4 linked regions of the Homo sapiens genome follow. The protein of the gene in region 3 purifies or fractionates together with the protein of the main gene of each other region. This does not show direct contact. Each region holds a gene or a part of one and is shown on either strand. Other genes may lie near its edges.

What was found.
Region 1: the proteins of SLC30A9 (region 3) and PCDHGB1 purify together in Homo sapiens (co-immunoprecipitation; one large-scale study listed by IntAct). This does not show direct contact.
Region 2: the proteins of SLC30A9 (region 3) and VSIG1 purify together in Homo sapiens (co-immunoprecipitation; one large-scale study listed by IntAct). This does not show direct contact.
Region 4: the proteins of SLC30A9 (region 3) and KCTD9 purify together in Homo sapiens (affinity purification with western blotting; one study listed by BioGRID). This does not show direct contact.

What each region holds. Positions count from the first base shown.
Region 1 is NC_000005.10:141,355,016-141,360,848, reverse strand, and holds part of PCDHGB1 (protocadherin gamma-B1 isoform 1 precursor), read right to left. Parts: intron 5,829-5,833; exon of another isoform or gene 5,742-5,828; coding exon of another isoform or gene 3,186-5,741; exon of another isoform or gene 3,116-3,185; intron 856-3,115; exon of another isoform or gene 714-855; coding exon of another isoform or gene 1-713. Other genes in the region: PCDHGB2 (protocadherin gamma-B2 isoform 1 precursor), read right to left, coding at 1-713; PCDHGA4 (protocadherin gamma-A4 isoform 1 precursor), read right to left, coding at 3,228-5,741. UniProt on the Homo sapiens protein: Potential calcium-dependent cell-adhesion protein. May be involved in the establishment and maintenance of specific neuronal connections in the brain.
Region 2 is NC_000023.11:108,050,003-108,055,835, reverse strand, and holds part of VSIG1 (V-set and immunoglobulin domain-containing protein 1 isoform 2 precursor), read right to left. Parts: intron 1-5,833.
Region 3 is NC_000004.12:42,073,137-42,078,969, reverse strand, and holds part of SLC30A9 (proton-coupled zinc antiporter SLC30A9, mitochondrial), read right to left. Parts: intron 3,314-5,833; coding exon 3,184-3,313; intron 759-3,183; coding exon 645-758; intron 1-644. UniProt on the Homo sapiens protein: Mitochondrial proton-coupled zinc ion antiporter mediating the export of zinc from the mitochondria and involved in zinc homeostasis, zinc mobilization as well as mitochondrial morphology and health.
Region 4 is NC_000008.11:25,443,419-25,449,251, reverse strand, and holds part of KCTD9 (BTB/POZ domain-containing protein KCTD9), read left to right. Parts: intron 1-3,001; coding exon 3,002-3,123; intron 3,124-4,916; coding exon 4,917-4,960; intron 4,961-5,833. UniProt on the Homo sapiens protein: Substrate-specific adapter of a BCR (BTB-CUL3-RBX1) E3 ubiquitin-protein ligase complex, which mediates the ubiquitination of target proteins, leading to their degradation by the proteasome.

The sequences.
Region 1 (5,833 bases), on a different chromosome or scaffold from region 3:
TTATCGTTGGCATCCGTGACTTTGATTCGGATTTGGGTCGTGCCACTTTGAGGTGGGTCTCCGCCATCCACAGCTGTGAGGACCAATTGATGTAAACTGTGCTCTTCTCTGTCCAGAGAGTGTTTTAGAATCAACTCAGGATATTTACGACCATCTGGAGTCTGTTTCTCAGCGAGATCAAAGTACTCGTTGTCATTAAGGTGGTATCTTTGTAGTGAGTTAGGACCAACATCTGAATCCAGGGCTGGGTCAAGTGGAAATGTTGTACCTGGCTTAGTGGATTCGCCAATTTTTAAATTAATCTTAGTCTGTTTGAATAGCGGGGTATTATCATTTATATCCTGCACAATTACTGCTATGTAGAAAATATTTAGTGGATTTTCAGCGACAGTATCGAAATCCAGAACACACAGAGGCTGCTTCCCGCATATCTGTTCTCGGTCTATTCTGTCACTCACAAGTAAGTCTCCGCTTTCTGGGTTTACTGTGAAATATTCCTTCTCCGCGCTAACCCGCAGCTTCCGGGCTGGCAAGTCCCGGACGCTGAGCCCCAGATCCTTGGCGAGGTTTCCTACGACCGAGTTTTTGGCCAGCTCCTCTGGAATTGAATAGCGGATCTGGACTGGGAGAGCCCCGGGGAACAAAGACAACAGGAAGGGCAACAGTACCTGCAGCCACCGCACCAGCCCGCACCTCCCTGAGCTCGCTTTCATCTTCTGGCTCCCTTTGCTCCTTTGCCCATAGGAGGAATAAGCCTTCCGGGGATGGCAGAATCCGGGCTAAGGTCACTTTTCCTGCTTTTGTTTTCTGTTTCCGAATCTATACTGGCCTTCTCTGTGTGGTTGGTTTGTGCAGGAAGTTCCCCTCTAAGAGGCTCCCAAACGCTTCTCTTCGTTCTTTTGACCAACAGCGACGCTCAGAGGTTTTCTCAGGAAACTGCACTAATGGCTTGTCAATATTTGCTAAGAACTTTTTTCTTTTCTTTTCTTTTTTAATTTATAAAGTCTTCATTTGTTTTAAAATATGTGAAATATTCATATAGTTCCAAATTCAAAAGATGCATTCAGCATAGGTTCTTCCTTTCATCTCTGCTTTAGATGAGGAGAAATGCTTTCACAGGGGAAATGAGTGTTAAAGTTTCTTAGGTATCCTTCCGGAGATATGTCTTGTATAGGGCAACGGATTTTTATAAATATTCTGTCTCCTTCTTTACACAAATGTAAGCATACAACATACCATATTCTGCACATTGCTTTTTTAGTTGTTATATCTTAAAGATCATATCAGTACATAGAGAGCTTTCCTATTTATTTCTTATAGTTATCTAGTGGCCCATAATATAGTTATCTAGTAGTCCGTAATATGAATATACAACAATTTGTTTAATCAAAATTGTTATTTGCTAAAAGAAACCCACTGCCCATTCTAACAAAAACACATTTTTTAAAAAATTTGATTTTAGGTTATAAATTATCTACTGCTTTCCTAGGCCTTTAAAACATGTGGCACTCTCATTCTGGAATATATTCCTAATGCCAACACCTGAATATGCTTGACACAGTTTCAGACCAATTGAGCATTTCCAAATTATATTTTATGGCTTAATTACTTTAAACAATCTCTCCTCAGATGTAAGTTGTCTCTCAACATTCACTTGTTATTTCTGCTTTCTGCTCCCCAAGCCAGGTAACTGCATCATATCATATTCCAGCTTACTCTATGTATTGCACCACAACTTTCTATGAATACAAAACCATGTAGAAACTAAAACTCTCCTTTGTAAGTCAAATTGAGGCATATTCCACAGTCTATCACTACAACTTCCAGTTATCAAATTACACTAATTTGTGTAAGCATATGCATTCATGAATTTTGAATTCTCACAGAACCTAAATGAAAGCACAAAGAACAAAAGTGTTGTATATCCCCTACACACAAAATATTTTCCCTCATATAAAATAATCCCAGAGCCACATGATGACAGAAATATCTGAAAGCAATTTGTAGCAATAGGGATGAGGCCACCTTACTAAGCAGCGTAAATCATATCAGTCCAGAACCCAAGTAACTCAACCTTTGAAAGAGGCTCACATGATGACAAGAGAAAAGACTCCAAAAACTTATATTTTCCTTGGAAATCAAGAAAGTCTCAATAGTGATGTCATGATAAGCAATTTAAAAATTATTAAAGTTACTCCTAGAATCTACTTATATATGACTGAAATTAGCTTGGAAATATTTCTCATAATCACAGGAGTGCACCAGAGGAATCACACATAGTCACTTCTGGTGCATCTCAGAACAGCAACAAGAAAATATTTGAAATATACCAGTTCATTGAGAAAATATCCTGTTAAAGTTATATCTAAAAGTTAAACTCACAAATTGCCAGTATTCTTAAATTGACGTTGCCTGTTATAATGGAAAATACCCTTTCAAGGAAGGAAAAGTAAACTTCAAGCAAAGCATGGTAGAGTGTGAAAATAGGAAATTAAAAAACCCTCAGTCCAGATCCAACAATAGCTTCATGAGAAAGAATATTGTAAATGTGAATTTACACAATTGCCTTCTATTTTACAGGTCTCTTGTATCTTTTCAGGAACACCTAAGAGAAAAGGAAATTTATTCTTTATTTTACTTTATTTTATTTTACTTTTTGGAGACAGAGGCTTGCTCTGTTGCCCAGGCTGGAGTACAGTGTCATGATCTCAGCTCATTGCAACCTCTGCCTCCCAGGTTCAAGCAATTCTCATGCCTCAGCCTCCAGGGTAGCTGGGACTACGGGCACACACCACCACGCCTAGCTAACTTTTTGTATTTTAGTAGAGACTGGGTTTCACCATGTTGCCCAGACTGGTCTCGAACTCCTGAGCTCAGGCAATCCGTCCTCCTCACACTCCCAAAGTGTTAGGATTACAGGTGTGAGCCACCACACCCAGCACAGAAAAGGAAATTTAAGGAAATGAGGTGGCTCAGAGTTGTAAAATTAGAAAATTCTGGCTGAAACTACAACTGAATGAAGACCAAAAAGGATAAGTAATAAACAACATTTTTGTGTGGTAAATACTGTTGATCATTATTGGAAGGTCATCCACCAGTTTTCTTTAAAGCAATAAAATATTAAAAGAGGCAACTTTATTTGATATATTACATATAAAATGAGAGACATTTACACAACTCTTTGTCTATATTTCAGTGTGGTATGATCTATTATAAGATTGACTCACCTGAAGATTAGGGTCTCCTTTTGTTTCAAGTAAATCCTGAGTTATCAGAAGAGGCTCGCTTTTCTCACAACTCTCCCGGCTGATGAGCGTGTCTGCATAGCTGGGTTGGGAGAAGATCAGGTGACTCTTCCGCGAGTCCGCGGTGAGGGAGACCTCGTGGGAATAGGTCTGCAGGAAAGCCCGAACCCCGTCCACGCCCACAAAGTGCGAGGCAGGCACACCTGCCAACCTGCTGCCTTCAGCGTGAAGCAGGCGTGACTTGTGCCAGCGTCTCAGCTTGAGTGCTAGCAGCACCGTGACAAAAGCCAGGAAGACGCAGGAGACAGCGGCCACTGCCACCACGAGATAGAGTGTGAGGCCCGAGTCGTCTGGGTCTGCTGAAGGCTTGAGGCTGCCCAAGTCAGCCAGGACATCTGGGATGCTGTCGGCCACAGCCACAGTGAGTGTGACGGTGGCCGAGAGAGGGGGCTGGCCATGGTCCTGGACGACCACTACAAGCCTCTGCTTGAGCGCGTCTCTGTCCAGCAGGGCCCGTGCGGTGCGCACCTCGCCTGTGTGCAGCCCCACTGCAAATAGTCCCGGCTCGCTGGACTTGAGTAGGCTGTAGGACAGCCAGGCATTCTGACCTGAGTCTCTGTCCACTGCCACCACTTTGGTCACCAGGTAGCCGGAATCTGCGGAGCGGGGTGCCAGCTCCACACCAGTGGAGCCATCAGTAGGGAAGGTGGGGTACAGGATCTCAGGGACATTGTCGTTCTGGTCCAGCACAAAGAGGCTCAGTGACACATTGCTGCTGAGTGGAGGGTCTCCACTGTCACTGGCTGTCATCAGCAGCTGCAGGTCTCTAAACTGCTCATAGTCGAAGGAGCAAAGAGCATATAGGATCCCTGTATTGGAGTTGATGGAGACATAGGAGGACAGAGGTGCACCCTGGAAGGTGTCTTCGGCCAGGGAGTAAGTGATTCGGGCATTGTCACCACTGTCAGGGTCTTGAGCAGTCATAGATAAGATGGAGGCTCCTCTGGGGTTGTTTTCAGGAATGTAAGCAGAGTAGGAAGCATGAGGGAAAGTGGGTGGGTTGTCATTGATGTCCATCACTTGCAGTGAAATATGAGTTTCTGTAGACAGTGGAGGAGTTCCCTGGTCAGTGGCAGTTACAGTGATGTTATATTCTGAGACTTCTTCCCTGTCCAGTGTTCTGTGTGTCAACAACCGATAATAATTTCCATAGGTCTTTTCAAGTGTGAATGGCAGATTATCTGGAATAGAACATGTGACTAGGCCATTTCCTCCTGAGTCACTGTCATGCACGTTGAAAAGTGCAATTACTGTACCCGGGGAAGAAGATTCCTGGACTGAGCTGGTGAGAGATGTAACTGTGACTTCTGGTGCGTTGTCATTTTCATCCAGAACTGTCACCAGTACCTTGCTTCTAGCTCGGAGACCAGGCCCATCATGGGCTTCTACATCTATGTCATAGAATCCAGAGTCCTCATAATCTAGACCCCCCAATATTGTTATATCCCCACTCAGAGAATTCAACTGAAATAGCTGTGATATTTTGTCTCTTACTTTCCGGAAAGAATACGTCACGTCTCCATTGGCTCCTTCATCTGGATCAGTGGCTTTTACGGTGAGTAGCCGAGTGCCTACAGGAACGTTCTCACGAACACTTACGTGGTACTCGGGCTGAGTGAACACGGGAGCATTATCGTTGGTATCCACAAGTATTATGAGAATCCTGGCAGTGCCAGAGCGAACCGGGTCACCTCCATCGAAGGCCGTGAGAACGAGGTGGTGAACCGCCTCTTCCTCGCGATCTAGAGCGCGTTCCAGCACCAGCTCTGGGTACTTAATCCCATCGGCCCCACTTTGCACGTCCAGGGAAAAGTAACCGTTTGAGTTGAGCTGGTAACCCTGCAGGGAGTTTACACCTACATCCGGATCAAAAGCTTCAGGAAGAGGAAATCTTGCCCCAGGATTTTCATTTTCAGCAACTTTTATTTCCCTCTGTTCTGTCCCAAAACTGGGTGGGTTATCATTAACATCGATTATTTCCACCTCTACCCGCAAAATCTTCACTGTATCTTCTAGAAGAATCTCCAGGTTTGTCACACAGTTTGGAGATCTGTCGCAGAGCTCCTCCCTGTCTATCCTACCCGCGGTGACCAAGGTGCCGCTGCGCGGGTTCAGGGCGAAAAGCTGCGTCCTACCTCTGGAGACGATGCGGACTCCGCGCTCCGCCAGCTCCCGGGGCGCCAACCCCAGGTCCTTGGCGATGTTGCCCACCACTGAGCCTTCTTCCTGCTCCTCAAACACCGAGTAGAGAATCTGTTCGGCCCTGATTTCCACCAGAACCCCCAGGAGAAGGCAGATCTGGAGCAGCCGGGTGTGGTCTGGGCGAGCAGGAGGCGCCGCCATTACAACCCCGCCGCGGAGTCGCCTGTGCTTCGGTTTTCCCTCTGTCGAGGCCTGAGGAGCCCCAGGATCTTCTGGGTCCAAAATAAAGTGCATTCACAGCCAGAGCTCTCAGGGCTTCCGCTTGAAGCTTTCATAAAGCTCCAGAGCCAGTGCTTTGTGCTGCAGAAATCTTGTGATTCTGATTA
Region 2 (5,833 bases), on a different chromosome or scaffold from region 3:
GTGGCAATTTGTTACAGCTGCTCTGGGAAACAAATACACCCTCTATTCCTAACTTGCTGAGTTTTAATGATGAATGGGTATTGGATTTTGTCAAATGCTTTATCTGCATCAGTTGATATGATCATATTTTTTTTTCTTTAGCCTGTTGATATGGTGGATTACACTGAATGCTTTTTGAATGTTGAACCAGCCTTACAAACCTGAAATAAATCCCATTTGGTCATGGTGTATAATTCTTTTCATACATTGTTGGATTCAATTTGCTAGTGTTTTGCTAAGGATTTTTGTGTCAAAGTTCATGAGAGAGATATTGGCCTGTAGTTTTCTATTTTTGTACTGTTTTTGTCTGGTTTTGGTATCAGGATAATACTGGCCTCATAAAATGAGTTGGAAGTGTTTCCTCCTGTTCTATTTTTTGGAAGAGAATGTGTAAAACTGATCTTAATAATTCTTTAAATGTTTGCTAGAATTATTTGCTGAAGCTATCTAGGCCTGGAGATTTATTTTGTAGGAGCTTTTAAAATTATGAATTCAATTTCTTTAATGGTTATAGAGCTATTCAGATTATCCATTTCATATTGGGTGAGTTCTAGTAGTTTGCTGCTTTGGATAAATTGGCCAATTTTTTTCTAAGTTGTCAAATATATGAATGTATAATTGTTCATAATATTCTCTCATTATATTTTTAATGACTGCAGGATCTATAGTGATATTCCATATTTCATTTCTGATATTAGTGATTTGGGTCTTAACTCTTTTTATTAGTCTTGCTAGAAGTTTGTCAGTTTTACTGATTTTTTTTTCAGAAAAGCAAATTTTTGTGTTATTAATTTTTCCCTATAGTTTTTCTATTTCAAATTCATTGATTTCAGCTCTTTATTATTCCCTTCCTTCTGCTTGCTTTGGGTTTATTTTGGTCTTCTTTTCTAGATCCTTGATGTAGAAATTTAGGTTATTGACTTAAGACCTTCCTTTATTTCCAATGTAAACATTTAGTGTTAGAAATTTCTCTCTCAGAATTGCTTTATCTACATGGTACATATTTCAATATGTTGTGTTTTCATTTGCATTCAGTTCTACGCATTTTTAAAAAAATTCCTTTTGAGATTTCCTCTTTGATCCACGGATTATTTAGAACAGTGTTGTTTAATTTCCACGTGTTTAGATACTTTTCTGCTACAGATTTCTAGTTTCATTGCATTGTAGTCAGAGAATATACTCTGTATGATTTCAATTATTTTAAATTTGTTTAGGTTTGTTTTACGGCCAAGCACATTATCTATCTTGGTGAATGTTCTGTAGGTGCCAAAAAAAAGTGTGTTCTGCTGTTGTTGGGTGGAGTTTTCTATACAAAGAGATATAATTTAAAACCACTATGGAAAAACCAATATAAAATCGTAAAAATATTCAACTGGATCCTGTTAATTGACTGTCTTTTTCAGATCTTCCCTATATTTACTGATGTTCTGTCTAGTAGATTTATCAATTTCTGAGAGGGGGTATTGAATTTCCCAACTATAATTGTGGATTTGTCTCTTTCTTCTTTTAGCTTGATCAGTTTTTGTTCATGAATTTTGAGACATAGTTGTTTGGTGTGTACCCATTAAGGATCATTGTATCCTCCTGCTGGATTGATCCATTTATCATTAGGTAATGTCTCTGTTTATCTCTTTTAACTTTCTTTGCTCTGAAGACTATTTTATCAGATATTAATGAAGCTTCTCCAGATTTTTGAAAAATTAATACTTATGTGGTACATCTTTTTCTATATTTTTACTTGCAATCTTCCTATGTCATCAAATTTAATGTGAGTTTCTTGTGAATAGCATATAGAGTAGTTCCCCCTTATTCCAGGGAGATATATTCCAAGACCCCCAGTGGATGCCTGAAACCATGGATAGTACTGAACTCTATGTATACTATATATATTTTTCCCCCATACACACAAACCTATGATAAAGTTTAATTTATAAATTAGGCACAGTAAGAGATTAACAATGATAACTACTAATAAATAGAACAATTATACCAATGTACTGGAGTAAAAATTATGTGATTGTGTTCACACACTCACACTCTTTCTCACAAAATATCTTATTATACTGTACTATGGGTAACTGAAACCTCAGAAAGTAAAACCACAGATAAAAGGGGACTACTGTAGTGGTATTCGCATTCAATATAATTATTTAATGTAATTATTGATATATTATTCTTGTTTGCTATTTTATTATTTGTTTTTTGTTTGTTCCCTTTAGTTCTTATTCTTCTGTTTCCCTTTTCTTGCTTTTCTGATAGTTACTTGAGCATTTTTTATGATTCCATCTTGACTTATTCATAGTGTTTTAAAATATATATCTTTGTAGAGTTTTCCCAGTGGTTTCTCTGGGTATTCAACATTCATGTGTGAGTCATAACAGTCTACTCATATCAATATTTTACCACTTTGATTGAAGTGTATAAACCTCACTTCCATTTAGTTTCCTTTACCTTCCCCACTTTTAAATATCATTGTCTAGAGTATAAAATGGTGTTATAATTTTGCTTCAATTATCAAATATGATTTATAGAACTCATGAGTTAAAAGATAGTCTACTTTATGTACTTACATTTCTGCTCTTTCTGTTGTCCTTTCATCCTTCCTGATTGCTCTTTATCATTTATTCTCTGTTTGAAGAAATCCCTTTAGCTATTTTTTAACAGTATGTCTGCTAGCAACAAATCTTTTTGTTTTCCTTCAACTGAGAATTTAATTATTTCCCCTTAATTCCTGAAGGATAGTTTCACCAGATATGGATTCTATTTTCTGTCATCTCTGCTCTTCTATTGAGTCCATCAGCCAGTTTTTCATTTTTGTTATTTTATTTTACAGTTCTATAATTTATATTTGTTTTTTGGGGGGAGGGGACAAACAAGCCAGTTTTATTCAAAAAATAATTCCAAGGGGGAAAAAAGAAAACTGAGAAAGAGCCTATAGATTGTAAGGGTCTTTAGAAAAATAGTAGATAATTGCAAAGTATGTATTTTTTAAATTCTTGTTTTTAACTTAATTTTTATTTTAATTAATTAACAAATAATTATTGCATATATTTATGGGATACAATGTGATATTTTAATATATGCATACACTGTGGAATAATTACATCGAGCTAATTAACATATCCATCACCTCACGTAATTTATCCTTTTTTTTGTTTTTTGTTCTGTTTTGTTTTGTTTTCAGACAGGGTCTCACTCTGTCACCCAGGTTGGAGTGCAGTAGTGTGATCTCGGCTCACGGCAACCTCTGCCTCCCAGGCTTAAGCAATTCTCCCATCTCAGCATCCCGAGTAGCTAGGACCACAGGCACATGCCACCATGCCCAGCTAATTTTGTGTGTGTGTGTGTGTGTGTATTTTTGGTAGAAATAGGGTTTCACCACGTGGCCCAGGCTCTTCTCGAAATCCTGAGCTCAAGTGATCCACCTTCCTTGGCCTCCCAAAGTGGCGGGATTACAGGCATGAGCCACCACATCTGGCCTACCTATCTTTTGTTTCGTTTTGTTTTTTTCATAGCAGGAACATTTAAAATCTATTATTTTTTTGAATACTTTTTTGGGGAACAGGTGATGTTTGGTTACGTGGATAAGTTCATTAGTGGTGATTTCTGAGATTTTGGTGCCCCCATTACCCGAACAGTGTACACTGTACCCAATGTGTAGACTAAAATCTTATGCTTTTAGCAGTTTTGAAATGCACATACATTATTATCAACTATGGTGAGCATGCTGCAAAATAGGTCTTAAAAACTTATTCCTCTTGTCTAACTGGAACTTTGTACCCTTTGGTCAACTTCTCCCCATTTCCCACTCCCTCCAAGCCACAGTCCCTGGTAACCATTCTACTCTAATTCTGAGTTCAACTCTTTTAGATCTCACATATAAGTGAGATTATGTGGTGTTTGTCTTTCTGTGTCTGGCTTGCTTCACTTAGCATAATGTCCCCCAGGTTCATTCATGCTGTAGCAAATGACAGAATTTCCTTCTTTCTTATATTTTTATAACTTCTTTTTCTTTTCTGCAAGTTTCCTTTTTTTTCTTTATTTGTTTTAAGATAATGTTAATTGATTGTTGAGGCATTTTTATGATGGCTACTTTGAAATCCTTGTCAGATAATTCCAACATCGAACTCATCTTAATGTTGGCAGTAGTTGCCTTTTCTCAGTCAAGTTGTGATTTACTTGATTCTTGGTATGACAGATGATTTTTGATTGAACATTTTGTCTACTATGTTAGGAAACTCATATTTACATTTTTTATTTTTGCAGTCAGTCACATTATTTATGCTTCACATGCAAGCAGGTGTTGGCTTACTTTTGTGGTCTGTTGTTCTAACAGCAGTTTAATTTTCAGTATTGTTTTGCTCTGTTTGGTTTATCGGATATCACTGAGGCTGACATTTGTCCCAGATCATATCGCCTGAAGGAGCAGAAAGGTTTCCCTAGGTCAGGCTTCCAGGTGCCTCTCAGTTGGGGTAGGTATGGTGGGACACTTCTACTGGCGCCCTGCACTGTTGGTGTCTCTATGGGTAGGAGAGGACAGTCATACACCCACTGAGACAGAGCCTTCCCAGACTGGGCCGCTTGCCATCACTTTATGCCTCGTGTCTGTTCTACCCTCCCACCTCGATATCTCTAGGTGAAAGTGGGACATCTCAGGCCTGGGGAGAAGGCAAATGCTTCTTTTGTCCACTGTTGTTGGTGGGGTTTCTGAAGATCCCCCCTTACCTGTGGTGTTGGGCCTACCTGATGTTGTCAGAGGGACTCTGAGGGAGGAGTAAGCTTACCTGGGCTGCCCTCTGTTGTTCAGTTGGGTATCAGGAATGGCCAGGACTAGGTTTCTTTCTTCTGCTGGGTGGGAAACATAGGATACCCTTGCTCTTTGTTTTTCCCTGGGTCTCAAACCAGTTTGCCTTCTCCTTACAACCTTCCAGAGTTCTACCCTGGTTGTCTCTTGCATTATTTCCAGGGTTTATACTTGTGCTTAGCAGGGAGGAACAATGAAAAACAGGTCTGTACTACATGTCCAGACCAGAAATCTCCCTCAGTTTTTAAGAGTGTAAAATTGTCCTGAGACCACAAATTTTGAGAACTGTTGGCCTTACAGAAAGATGAAGTAATTAAGCTCCCCATAGGATTTGGAGGCCCACCGAAGGGCACCCTACCCAAATCCAGCCTGCCACTACACTAAAATTCTCAGTTCTATATGAGCACTTTCCAAAGGGCTATTTTAGGTGATGGCACTTTGGGGAGCACTATACAGTCACTGTCTTATCTTATTAACTGGTTGCTATGCATTGCATTGTCGAAGACTATAAAAGTTCTCCAGGATGGGTCACGGGATTGGCAGGCAAGCACTGGAAGAGAAAGTCAAGTTCAAGAGACGCTCTCTATGCTGTCCTAGTTGCCTGCAGGGTAACAGAGGGTGTTGGAGGGTTGAGGGTGAAGGGATGAGGATACAGAAATTATGAAAGATTCAGAGGAAATTGCATAGAGGGACTAATTCCTGTCCATCTTCCCAATTTTGCATACCCAAAGACTTATTTATTTCATATTTTTCTTACTTAATGACAGCAGTCAGACAAAAAGAACTTAAAGGATTGACAAACACTTTTAAAAAGTAAAAGAAAAAAAATCGTTGTACTGATTACTCTTGGTTTCATGGATTCAATATCTGTGTTCTCTGTCACAGCCAGGTCACCTGGTCCAGCTGCTTTCCTGCCAGAAGCTGGCTGTTTACATGGCAACCAATGCACTGATAAATTAAGAAAAGTGCCTGAATGCAAACAAAAATGCA
Region 3 (5,833 bases):
ACAAAATTAAAGAATGGTCAATATCAACTGCAGAAAAAGCACTGCCTTCAACAAATTATATACATTAAAGATCATTTACAAGTTTTTATTCATTGCAAACAGAATTCAAATGTCAATAAATGGCAATTTGAGAACACTGAGACATTTTAAAAGACAACCTGATCAGGATCAGGTAATATTTCAGTAACATAATCAATAAATTACAATAACATCCAACTGAATAGAAACAAACAAAAACAGAAAATAATTTCAAATGGGCTAAAAGCAAGATATACATTCTATTTTTTCTAACTTTTGACCACAGTCTAAAGTTTCCTTTTCATCTTTCTCTAGGAACTTTCAAAATGCTTATTTATTAACAAACAAAAAAACCCCCTTTGACTATTTTAGAAACTAAGCAGGCTGCATAAAATAGTGTTTAAAAGTAAAGAATCTGGTTCAAATCACAATTTCCCTATTTCCTTGGGTAAATTATTCAACTTATCTAACCCAGTCATTTTCTTGCTTATAAATACCTACACACTGTGGAGTTATGAGTGGGTTAAAGCATGCATGTGATGGATGCACTTAGTGTCTGCTGTAGAGTAAGTACTCAAAAAAATAGCTGCCATTATCATTATGTTATTTTTATGAATACATCTTACTTTCAGTTCCTTCTCAAGTCTATCTACTTCAGCTCCTAAAGTATCAATAATATTTTCTCCATGTTTAAGCATAAAGGTCTCTAGTTCTTCAGGAGTTTTCACTTCTTGAATTTCCTATAAAGAAAATGAAAACAGGAAAATAAATTTTTAAAAAACCATAGTGGTACACTTATGACTCCTTAAAAAAAAACAAACCTATAACAAACGCCATTAAGTTTAATGAACATTTTTAAAACTTTAAGCCACAGGCAATGGATTACCTATTTCCAAAACAATTCGGATCAAGAAAACTGAGTATAATACTACACAGAGGTAGCACTACAAAATTACTGGGGAAATAATATAGTCAATAAATAGTGTTAGAATATTTTCCCTTAAGAAAAAAAAATTGAATCCCTATGTCAGACCATTAAAATAATTCAAAGTGGATGAAAGACATAAGGGTAAAAAACAAACCACAAAACTACTAGATGAGAAGAGAATATTTTTATGATAATGGGATATGGAAGGATTTTTCATGCAAAAGAATAAAAAGCACAGAGGAAAAGATTACAAATCTCACATTAAAATTAAAAATCATATTAAATATTTTGTATAACAACAAAAAGAAAAGGAAGTTATAAACTAGAAAAAAATAATTGCATATATACAAGTAAGAATTAGCATCCAGGATATTAAAAATAAAGACCTTTCCAGGAGTTCAAGACCAGCCTGGCCAAGATGGTGAAACCCCATCTCTACTAAAAATAGAAAAATTAACCGGGTGTGGTCACAGGCACCTGTAATCCTAGCTACTTGGGAGGCTGAGGTAGATAATTGCTTGAACCTGGGGGGCGGAGGTTGCAGTGAGCCAAGATCGCGCCACTGCACTCCAGCCTGGGTGACAGAGCGAGACTCTGTCTCAAAAAATAATAATACAATGCAATAAAATAAAGACCTTTCAAATCTATAAGTGTAATGCAAATGAACTTAAAACATGAAAAATCAGGGAGCAATGTAGAGGAAATCCCACTGGTCAATGAACTTCAATGTTTATTAACCTCAATGCTCCAAGAAATAAAATTAGAACAAGATACTATTTCACACCTATCAAACTGGCAAAAATTTAATAACTCTATTAATACAATCATGTAAGAATAGGAAGCAAGAACCTTGATATACAATGATGGAAGTTAAATTGACACACTTTGGAAAATAACTTGGTAAGACCTAGGCAAGCTGAAGGTAAGTACACCCAATGGCCCACCTATTTAAAATCTAGCTATCTATATATACACCATACTAAAGAAATTTTCATATATGTGAACAAGGAAACGTGTGAGAATGCAATCATGGCATTGTTTCTTTCTTTTTTTTTTTTTTTTGAGACGGAGTCTCGCTCTGTCGCCCAGGCTGGAGTGCAGTGGCACGATCTAGGCTCACTGCAACCTCCAACTCCCAGGTTCAAGCGATTCTACTGCCTCAGCCTGCCGAGTAGCTGGGACTACAGGCACGCACCACCACACCCAGCTAATTTTTGTATTTTTAGTAGATACGGGTTTTCACCATGTGGGCCAGGATGGGATCGATCTCTTGACCTCGTGATCCGCCCACCTCGGCCTCCCAAAGTGCTGGGATTACAGACGTGAGCCACCGCGCCCGGCCATGGCATTGTTTCTAACAGTAATATAAATGTCCATCAACTGGAGACAAAATAAATAAATTACAGCATATTCATAGGATGAAATGCTCTATAACAATGAAGGTAAACTGACTAGAGATATATAAATTAACACGGAAGAATCTAAAAAATATGTTGTTATGCCAATTGTAGAGACGCATACAGTAGGATACCATTTATACCAATTTTTAAACATTCAAAATGTTACATATTACACTAAAAAATGCTGAAAAGTATAAAAATCTGAATGGAAAAGACAGGTACCAAATTCAGCATAATGTTTAATTCTAGGGATGGAAGAAGAAGAATGAGATATAGAAAGAGAAAATGGGGGCTTGAATTGTTTTTGTAATTATTTCTTTTTTTAAGACCTTAAGCAAATACACTATAGCAAAATGTTAAGATTTGACAGGGGCAAGTGGTAACATCTGTGCTGTTCATTATATTCTGTTTTATAAATTCTCTTTTAAACTATTCTTAATAAAAAAATGGATTCTGGAGTCAGGCAGATCTCGATTCATATATGACTCCATCTCTGTGGCACTACAACTTAAGGCAAATTACTTAATCTCTGTCTTTCAATTTCTATATATGTTAAAATAAAAATGTTATTTCATTGTTGAAATAACAGGGTTGTTGAGGGTAAATTAGATAAAAAAAGATTAAATGCACATAGCAAGCATGAAATAGTAAGTTTGTTCTTTTGCTGTCTCCTCTGAACCCCTCCATAGTAAATATAAAGGTCTCTGTTAAATTTTGGAACCTAAGAAGTTGAGAGCTAAAGTGCCTTTAAGATCTATAAAAAAAAATTTCATTTTGTTTACCTTAAAAGCATTTTTCTAACCCTCAGTTATGTAAGAAAACAACAAATAAACTTACTTGTAACATTTGGTCAAAATCTTGTTTTTCCAAATATGATCTTGTAACAACTCGCCCATCAAAATCTACTTCTGCCTTAAATCTTACTTTACCTAATCCCAGATCTGTGGCTTTAACATCATGAATTGCCCTGCAATCAATAACAATGCATACAAATTTATTTATACATACATACACATATATATACTTTAATAGCACAAAGGCTTGAATTATTGTTTTTTTCCCCACTAGTTACGAGAATGGACTAAGATGGCTTCAGAGTATTCACCATTAAGTACCACCTATCATTTTCCAAGGCCTGTCCGTTTAGCTTTTTTTTTGGCATGATATCATACAAAGGTGCAAACTTAACAAATATTATTTTATGGTAATTTATGAATTATAAAGCTCATGTATTAAAAGTTCATTAACTCTGCTGGGCGCAGTGGCTCATGCCTGTAATCCCAACACTTTCGGAGGCCGAGCAGGGAGGATCACCTGAGGTCAGGAGTTTGAGACCAGCCTGGCCAATATGGTGAAACCCTGTCTCTACTAAAACTACAAAAATTAGCCAGGCATGGTGGTGCATGCCTGTAATCCCAGCTACTCAGGAGGCTGAGACAGGAGAATTGCTTGAACCTGGGAGGCAGAGGTTGCAGTGAACCCAGATTGTGCCACTGCACTCCAGCCTGGGCAACAGAGTAAGACTCTGTCTCAAAAAAAAAAAAAAAAAAAAAAAAAAAAAAAATATATATATATATATATATATATATATATATATATATATTCATTAACTCTAAATCAATTTTCTAAAATGTCATGTTATCTCATAAGCCTTTGTCTCCATATATCTACTTATCAATTTCCTAAATGCCATATAAAAATTTGTTTTAATTTATAATGGTGTTGTAGAGTATATTAACCAATTGTATGTTCACTAGCTTCTTTAAAAGTCTTCATACAATGCTGTGAAGTTCTCTATTAGAATGAGGTTAATAATAACTGCCACATGGGACTTGATGTGAGGAATAATGAGCTAATACATATATAAAATGTTTAATACAGTAAGAACTATAAGGCAGGCATTTAATGGATGGCTTTCATAAGTGGATAGGGTGACATCTTTATTTTATACATGATAAAACCATCCTAGAGTGGCATAAGTGACTTGCTCAAGGTAATTTAGCTAGTAAACAGCAGATTAGGACTCCCCAGCCCAGCTCTTCAGAAATGCAAGCCCAGTGGTATTTGCATCATACCCTTTTGCCTCCCAGACAGGAAAGCAGATACTCAAGCATAACTACTTTTCACCCCTCCTGCTCTAACCCTCAGTAAACAATCTTCCCTAGAAACTGCTGAGAAATTCTCTTCTTTCTACAGTGATCACTGTAAGATCTTTTCTGTACAGCACATATAAGAAATAACAAAACACTCTGAATTCTGAGGACATGGAGATTTACTAGAAAAACAAGCCTACGTAAGACTCCAAGTATTCTTACAACATTAGACCCTAATTTCTGAGGGATCCTGAGCAGGTTACTAAACACTGAGTCCAAAATTTTTTATCCATATAAGGAAGCTATATTTTAATCAACCATCAAGGATGAAATAAGAATTAATGTTTTAATATTTATAGTTACATGTGCTCAAGTTAAAACAAAACTTTTTCAGATTGGCAAAAGGCTATATCATTTATTCTTTTTTTTTTCTCTCCTGGTAACTCACAGAACATATTTATTCATTTTCAAAAATCATTTCTACTTTAGTCTTCACAGAGTATAAACACATTTCATTATTTGGCTGGTATGTGAGTAGCAACTAATAAATATATTTAGATATACTTTTTCCTTATGTTCTTACATATAACTAACTACAGACAGAAAACTGTTTGGAGGGCTCCCATATGATCAATCCCTGCCACCTATACGCAAGCCCTTGTGTGATCTCCTCTCACTGAATGTGGGCTATAACTACCAAATATGGCAAAGTGATGAGATGTCATTTCCAAGACCAGGTGACTAACCTGTGACTTTTGTCTTGTTCACACTCGCTCTCTATTGCCTTATCAATTTGCACGCTTTGATTAAGCAAGCTGCCATGTTGAAGAGGCCCATTTGGCAAGGAGCTAAATCTTGCGAACAATCATGTGAGTAAGGTTAGAAGCAGCCCCTTCCCCAGGAGATGACTATAATCCCAGTCAACACCTTGATTACAGTCTATGAGAAACCCTGAAGTCGAAGACCCAGATAAGCTGTGCCCTGATTCCTGACTCACAGAAACTGTAAGATGGTAATATGTTGTTTAAACCACTAAGTTTTGGGCCAATTTGTCACACAGCAGTAGGTAACTAATATACTGTTTAAAAAAATTGTATGAATTTTCTGGATTACTAACGTATTTTTTCCAATAATTGAATCCACAGATATTCACTCTTCCACAAAATTTCGAATTTGCCAGTCTTTCAGTTTATAGCTCTTTTTTAGACATTACTTATTAAACAATATATACAAAATTATAAACATGTATGTAGCAACAACAGAGCACCAAAATATATGATGCCAAAACCAAGAAGAAATGAAGGGAGGAAGAGCTAATACAACAACAATAACTAGAGACTTCGATACTTTCAGTAACGGATACAGAGGCCGGGCACGGTGCTCACACCTAGCAC
Region 4 (5,833 bases), on a different chromosome or scaffold from region 3:
GAACATTGAATTGGGAAAGAGGTGCTTGTGCTTCTTACCCTCTTTTCACAGCACCTTCTGACTGCAGGAGTTGTTTTGCATCTGCTTTGGTCAATCTCTTGCTCCTTTGCATGTTTGCTTCTCTCTTCTCTGTCTTTACTCTCTTCATGCTCTTTGCCTTAACACAACCCCAGCTTTGCCGTGTGCAATGCCCTAGGTACTGTATTTCGCTTCGCTTTGTCCCAGGAATGTGTATAATGCAATTACAGAATACCTCACTGTGTTGCAGAGGTGAACAATCATAGGAAATATGGGGGACATGTTTTAGTCAGGCTTTTTTTTCTTTTTTTTTTTCTTGGAGAAGGAGTCTCACTTTGTCGCCCAGGCTGGAGTGTGGTGGTGTGATCTCAGCTAACTGCAACCTCTGCCTCCCGGGTTGAAGCAATTCTCCTGCCTCAGCCTCCCAAGTAGCTGGGACTACAGGCACACGCCACCACGCCCGGCTAATTTTTTGTATTTTAGTAGAGATGGGGTTTCACTGTGTTGCCCAAGCTGGTCTCGAACTCCTGAGCTTAAGCAATCCATCCGCCTCAGCCTCCCATAGTGCAGATTTTACAGGCGTGAGCCACCGCGCCCAGCCCTACTCAGGCTTTAATTATTTATGGCAAGCCTGCTGTGTGTAGGACACTGTGCCAAGTGCTTTGCAGTATTTTTTTTATTGTGATAAAAGATGGAACAAAATTTATTATTTTAACCATTTTTTAAATGTGTAATTCATTGACATTGTTTACATTCACAATGTGTGTAACCATCACCACGGTTTATTTCCAGTACTTGGTCATCATCCCAAACAGAAATTGTAACCATTAAGAAATAAGTCTCCATTCCCATCTATGCCTTGGTAACCTTTATTCTGCTTTCTTTCTCTATGAATTTGCCTGTGTTGGGTACTTTCATGTGAGTGGTATCATAGAATATTTATCCTTTTGTGACTGGCTTATTTCATTTAGCATACTGTCAAAAAGGTTCATCCATGTTGCAGCATGTGTCAGAATTCATGTCTCTTCTCTTCTCGCTTTGCTTTCCTTTCCTTTTTCTTTATTCTTTCCTTTCCTTTCCTTTTCTCTTTTCTTTTTCCTTTCCTTTTTTCTTTTCCGTCCCATCATGTCCAGGCTGGAGTGCAGTGGCGTGATCTTGGCTCACTGCAGCCTTGAATTGGCAGGCTCAAGTGATCCTCCCATCTCGGCCTCCCAAGCAGCTAAGACTACAGGCATGTGCCTCCATGCTTGGCTACTTTTTGTATTTTTTTGTAGAGACCATGTTTCACCATGTTGGCCAGGCAGGTCTCGAACTCCTGGGCTCAAGCGATCCACCTGCCACAGCCTCTCAAAGTGCTGGGATTACAGGCATGAGCCATTGTACCTGGCCTCATTGTTTCTTATTGCTGAATAATATTCCATTGTATATATATACCATATTTTATTTATGCAATTACCTGCTTATGGACACTTGGGTTGTACATTATTTTTTATAATGCACTTGGTTCCGCTTAAATTTTTCTTGCCTTCAACACTTTCCAAAATGCCCCAGCACTCTTCTGGCTTTCATCCTTCTGATCCAAGAGAAAAAAGTTAGAATCTGAGTACTCTGCTTTTGAAAAACTGCACACTCGTATGTTATCGAGCAGCTTTTTCCATGTCCTCCATTTACTGTATTTATTTAACTAGAAACTGTCCACTCTATTCCAGTCACTGGTGGACAGAGGACCAGCCTTAGTGCTCACTTCATATGGCATCTTGACATAATAAATCTTGGGACGTCCATGAGCTAGCTGACTGTGCTTCGTGTTTAGCTCTTCACCTACTTATTTTTCTTTTTTTAGCGGGGAGACAGAGCCTTGCTTGGTCATAAAGGCTGGAGTGCAGTGGTGCAACCTTGGCTCACTGCAACCTCTGCCTCCTGGGTTCAAGCAATTCTCATGCTTCAGCCTCTGGAGTAGCTACAGGCATACACCACCACACCTGGCTGATTTTTGTATTTTAGTAGGGATGGGGTTTCTCCATGTTGGTCTGGCTGGTCTCAAACTCCAGGCCTTAAGTGCTCTGCCCGTCTCAGCCTCACAAAGTGCTGGGATTACAGGCATGAACCACTGCGCCCGACCCTTACCTAGTTTTTATTCCTAACTTTCAGAGGTCATAACTGATAATGGTGCAACTGCACAACTCAGTCGCTGGGAACCCATAGTTACAGTTAGGACCAGGGCACAAAATTCACTTACATGTAGAAATTCTCAGCACCCTGCTTAGACAGTTGCATGTATCTTGCACATATATCAGACTGCTTGATTCACAGCAGGACACATCAATTCATTGTCACCCAGCTGTTTGCTCTGTTCTTAAATGTTAGATGCTAAAATCTGGCTTAGTTAGTGAAGAATTAAATAAATGAGGTGAGAAGTTATCTTTTCTGTGGTAGTTGATGTCGTTAATGATATAATAAACAGTACCAGCACACTCCTGTTCTAAGGATGAACCATTCAAATAAATAAATAATAAAAGGACAACATAATAGGGACTTACTAGGTCTCAGGCACTTTGCTAAGCTCTTATGCATGAACTCATTTCATAATACCTTCTGAAGTAGGTGCTACTATTTTCTTCATTTCTAGTTAAAGCAACAGAAGCATCAGTAGGTTGACTCAAGTTGACAGCTAGAAAATGTCAGACTCTAGATCGAAGTGTAGGTCTATCTTACTTCACAACTGGAGCGCTATTTAACACACCTTAGGATTGTAGATTGTTTTGGTCAGAGATGATTTCTTATGTTCTAGTTGAGGAGTCGGCAATATTAGGCACCAAGTGAATAAATGAGTCATGGAAGAAAAGGGGGCACTGTTAAGAACCTTTTGAAGTCTCCTTTTATATGATAATCTTTTTAGCACTGTTCTAGTGTGGTAGTTTATAACTTATGGGGGATAACATGTATTAAAGAAATTGTTCATATTATTCTGGTGTGTTTACAGGTGGTTGCTGTATATGGAACTTTATCTGATTTGCTTTCTGTGGCCAGCAGTAAACTCGGCATAAAAGCCACCAGTGTGTATAATGGGAAAGGTGGACTGATTGATGATATTGCTTTGATCAGGTAACCTTCACCTTTTTATAAGCTGTCAACAGTGTGCCTCAACTTCTTGGTGCTATGCTGTTTCCCTTAAGCAGTAATTTAATCACTGTTAAGAGTACAGGATTTTGGCAAGTGTTTACCTAGAATTTGCTCTTTGGAATTTAAATCATTTGGGCTTAAGGTGAATTGATCAGCTAGAAAACCCTTAGTACATTTCAGTATACTGATAGTCTTTCTGCATAGTTCATATATAGCTATGAGGAATTTCTTCTTTGTGGTACTAGAGAAGGATCTAGTAAGACGTGCAGTTTTTAACATTAAAAATCTAATTCATCTCTTCACTTTTATATGCGCCTGCTTGTTAATCATTTCCTAAGAATGCTTTGCATTTTATAATCATTACAAAGGCCAGATTTTGTAAAAACTTTATAAATATGATAGAATTCTAAGTAGTGATATCACCAGTGATCCACCATAATTATAGGCTTATGTTTGTACCTTAAATATCTCAGGCAGATTTATCTCTTTAAAACAAGTGTGTAGTTCACCTTACTTCATCTTCATGAGGTCAGAGAATTTTGGAGCAGGAAGATGCTTAACAAAGAAGATGGTAAAGGGAACACAAATTAAGTATTGACTATGCCACTTATGTTATCATTGCTTTGCCTGAGTTATACCATTTAATTGGCAAAACATGAGTTTTTTTTATCAGTGATGTGAAGATAATGATGCTTTAACCTATAATGATATACAAAGTCTCTGTATAAATCTAGATCAAAATGACCTTTCAGTATAATATACTGCTTTGCAGTTAATCAGTTCTAGACCCTTCATTTTACAGATGAGGAAACGAATTACCTGTGAAGCTGAGGACTCACTCAGGTCATACAGCTAGTTGGGTTTTGTTAATGAAAACAGATTTTTATACTAATCTGAAAAAGTAAACTGGCATGGTGAACAAGTAGGAAATACTATACACTACATTTTAAATCCAAATAAATTAGGATAACTTCTTAGTTTTTCAATATGTATCTCCCAGCTTCTTTCAGTTTCTAAGGAAAACTGAGTCACATTGTTGGATGATGATCCTCATCAACCTAACTTTCTTCTTAACAAACACGAACTCTGCTTCTTAGAAAAATTTAACGTGTCCTGTGATGTCCTATAGGAAATAAAAACGTCTACAATGGAAGGTTATAATTGAAGCCTTCTGAGCTATAAGATATCTGTTTATTCATTTTTGGTTCACAATACAGTATCTGGGGTAATGGGTTGAGGAAGAGGATGTGCACTGATTGTCCAGAACTCTGGGTTATGTGCAGCCATTTACATTTGGGTGTATGGTGGATGTGTAGTGGGTAAACACTGACAGTAGAGTTACTTCCAGCTATATTTTTCCTAGATTTAATATGACAGTTTATTTCATCTCCAAAGCACACAACAGCTGATGATTTAGGGGTAAAAAATGTAAAGAAAAAAAGAATAGTTGGCTGTGACTTTAATCTATCCTTTCAGCATAATTATTCATTCTCAATTGATAAGAAAGCTGAACTCAACATCGTTTGTGTAAGGAGATTTTTTTCCCCACATTTCAAAAGTACTTTCATGTGCAAGATCTTATTTTTGAATTTAAATTCAAAGACAGTTAAGTTCAAGGGGTTAAACAAAGCATTGGAAACTTAGCTTCTTTGCAGTCTAGATTGATAGCAAAACCTATTGTCTATATAATTGTAAGGAATAGTTCCTATAAGCAACAGATAATTAATGTGATTTTTAGATTTTGATGGTAGCTTTTTAAATTTTGATTTCCCCAGGGATGATGATGTTTTGTTTGTTTGTGAAGGAGAGCCATTTATTGGTAAGTGACTTTAAAAGCCAATTTTATCTGCCAAAAAAAAAAAAAAAAGATGGAATGACAATTATTTTAAATGGGGCTATTAAGCTTAAACATTAAAAATGATCTTATGGCTGTATTCAAATCTTCACACTTTTTGATTCTGCATTGGGTATGTTAAAGTAAATTTTTTACTATATGATCGTAGTTTATTATAGATGCATGTTTTACATGCCGTTAAAATGCTCTGGAGGTATACATATTCATTAACTGTAACATAGTAAGGTAGTTTTGATCTTAGAAACAATTGTTTTGTTTGAAAATTTTTTCTTTGATGGTGAATGTCAAAATTTTTCTACGTGTTGTATTACATATTTGTGAGTAAATATTGCTTGCGTAAGTAGTGTTTGACAGTATTTCACAGTGATCAGATCAGCCAAAAAATGACTTGGTATCAACCACACACACAGGTGTGCACACACACTACCCTTTGATTTGGAAGAAAGCTTATAGTTGTATATCTCAAAAGAAAAGGCCGAAAGGAAGATAAAGTATTTGATTTATTTAGATCCATACAGTCCACACTCTGAATATTTAAGTATTTTTTAAAGCATCATACTAATTGCATTTGGTGAGTGGAAGTAGTTCTCACGATTGTTGCACAGGCAATTGTCAACTTAGAAGTAAGTGCATACTCTTGTCTGTCTGTCTCTACCTTAAAACTGTAAGCAAGAACTTCTCATCTTCTTTTATCCATTGGCCTAACAGTGACTGGCAGGCAATGGTCACTTAATTGGTCCACTGCATACAAACACAATAAAAAATGATCAATTAAGGTTTTTTTATTGTTATTAACTCATGGATTTAAAAATATTTGGTATATTTTCATCCTCTGCA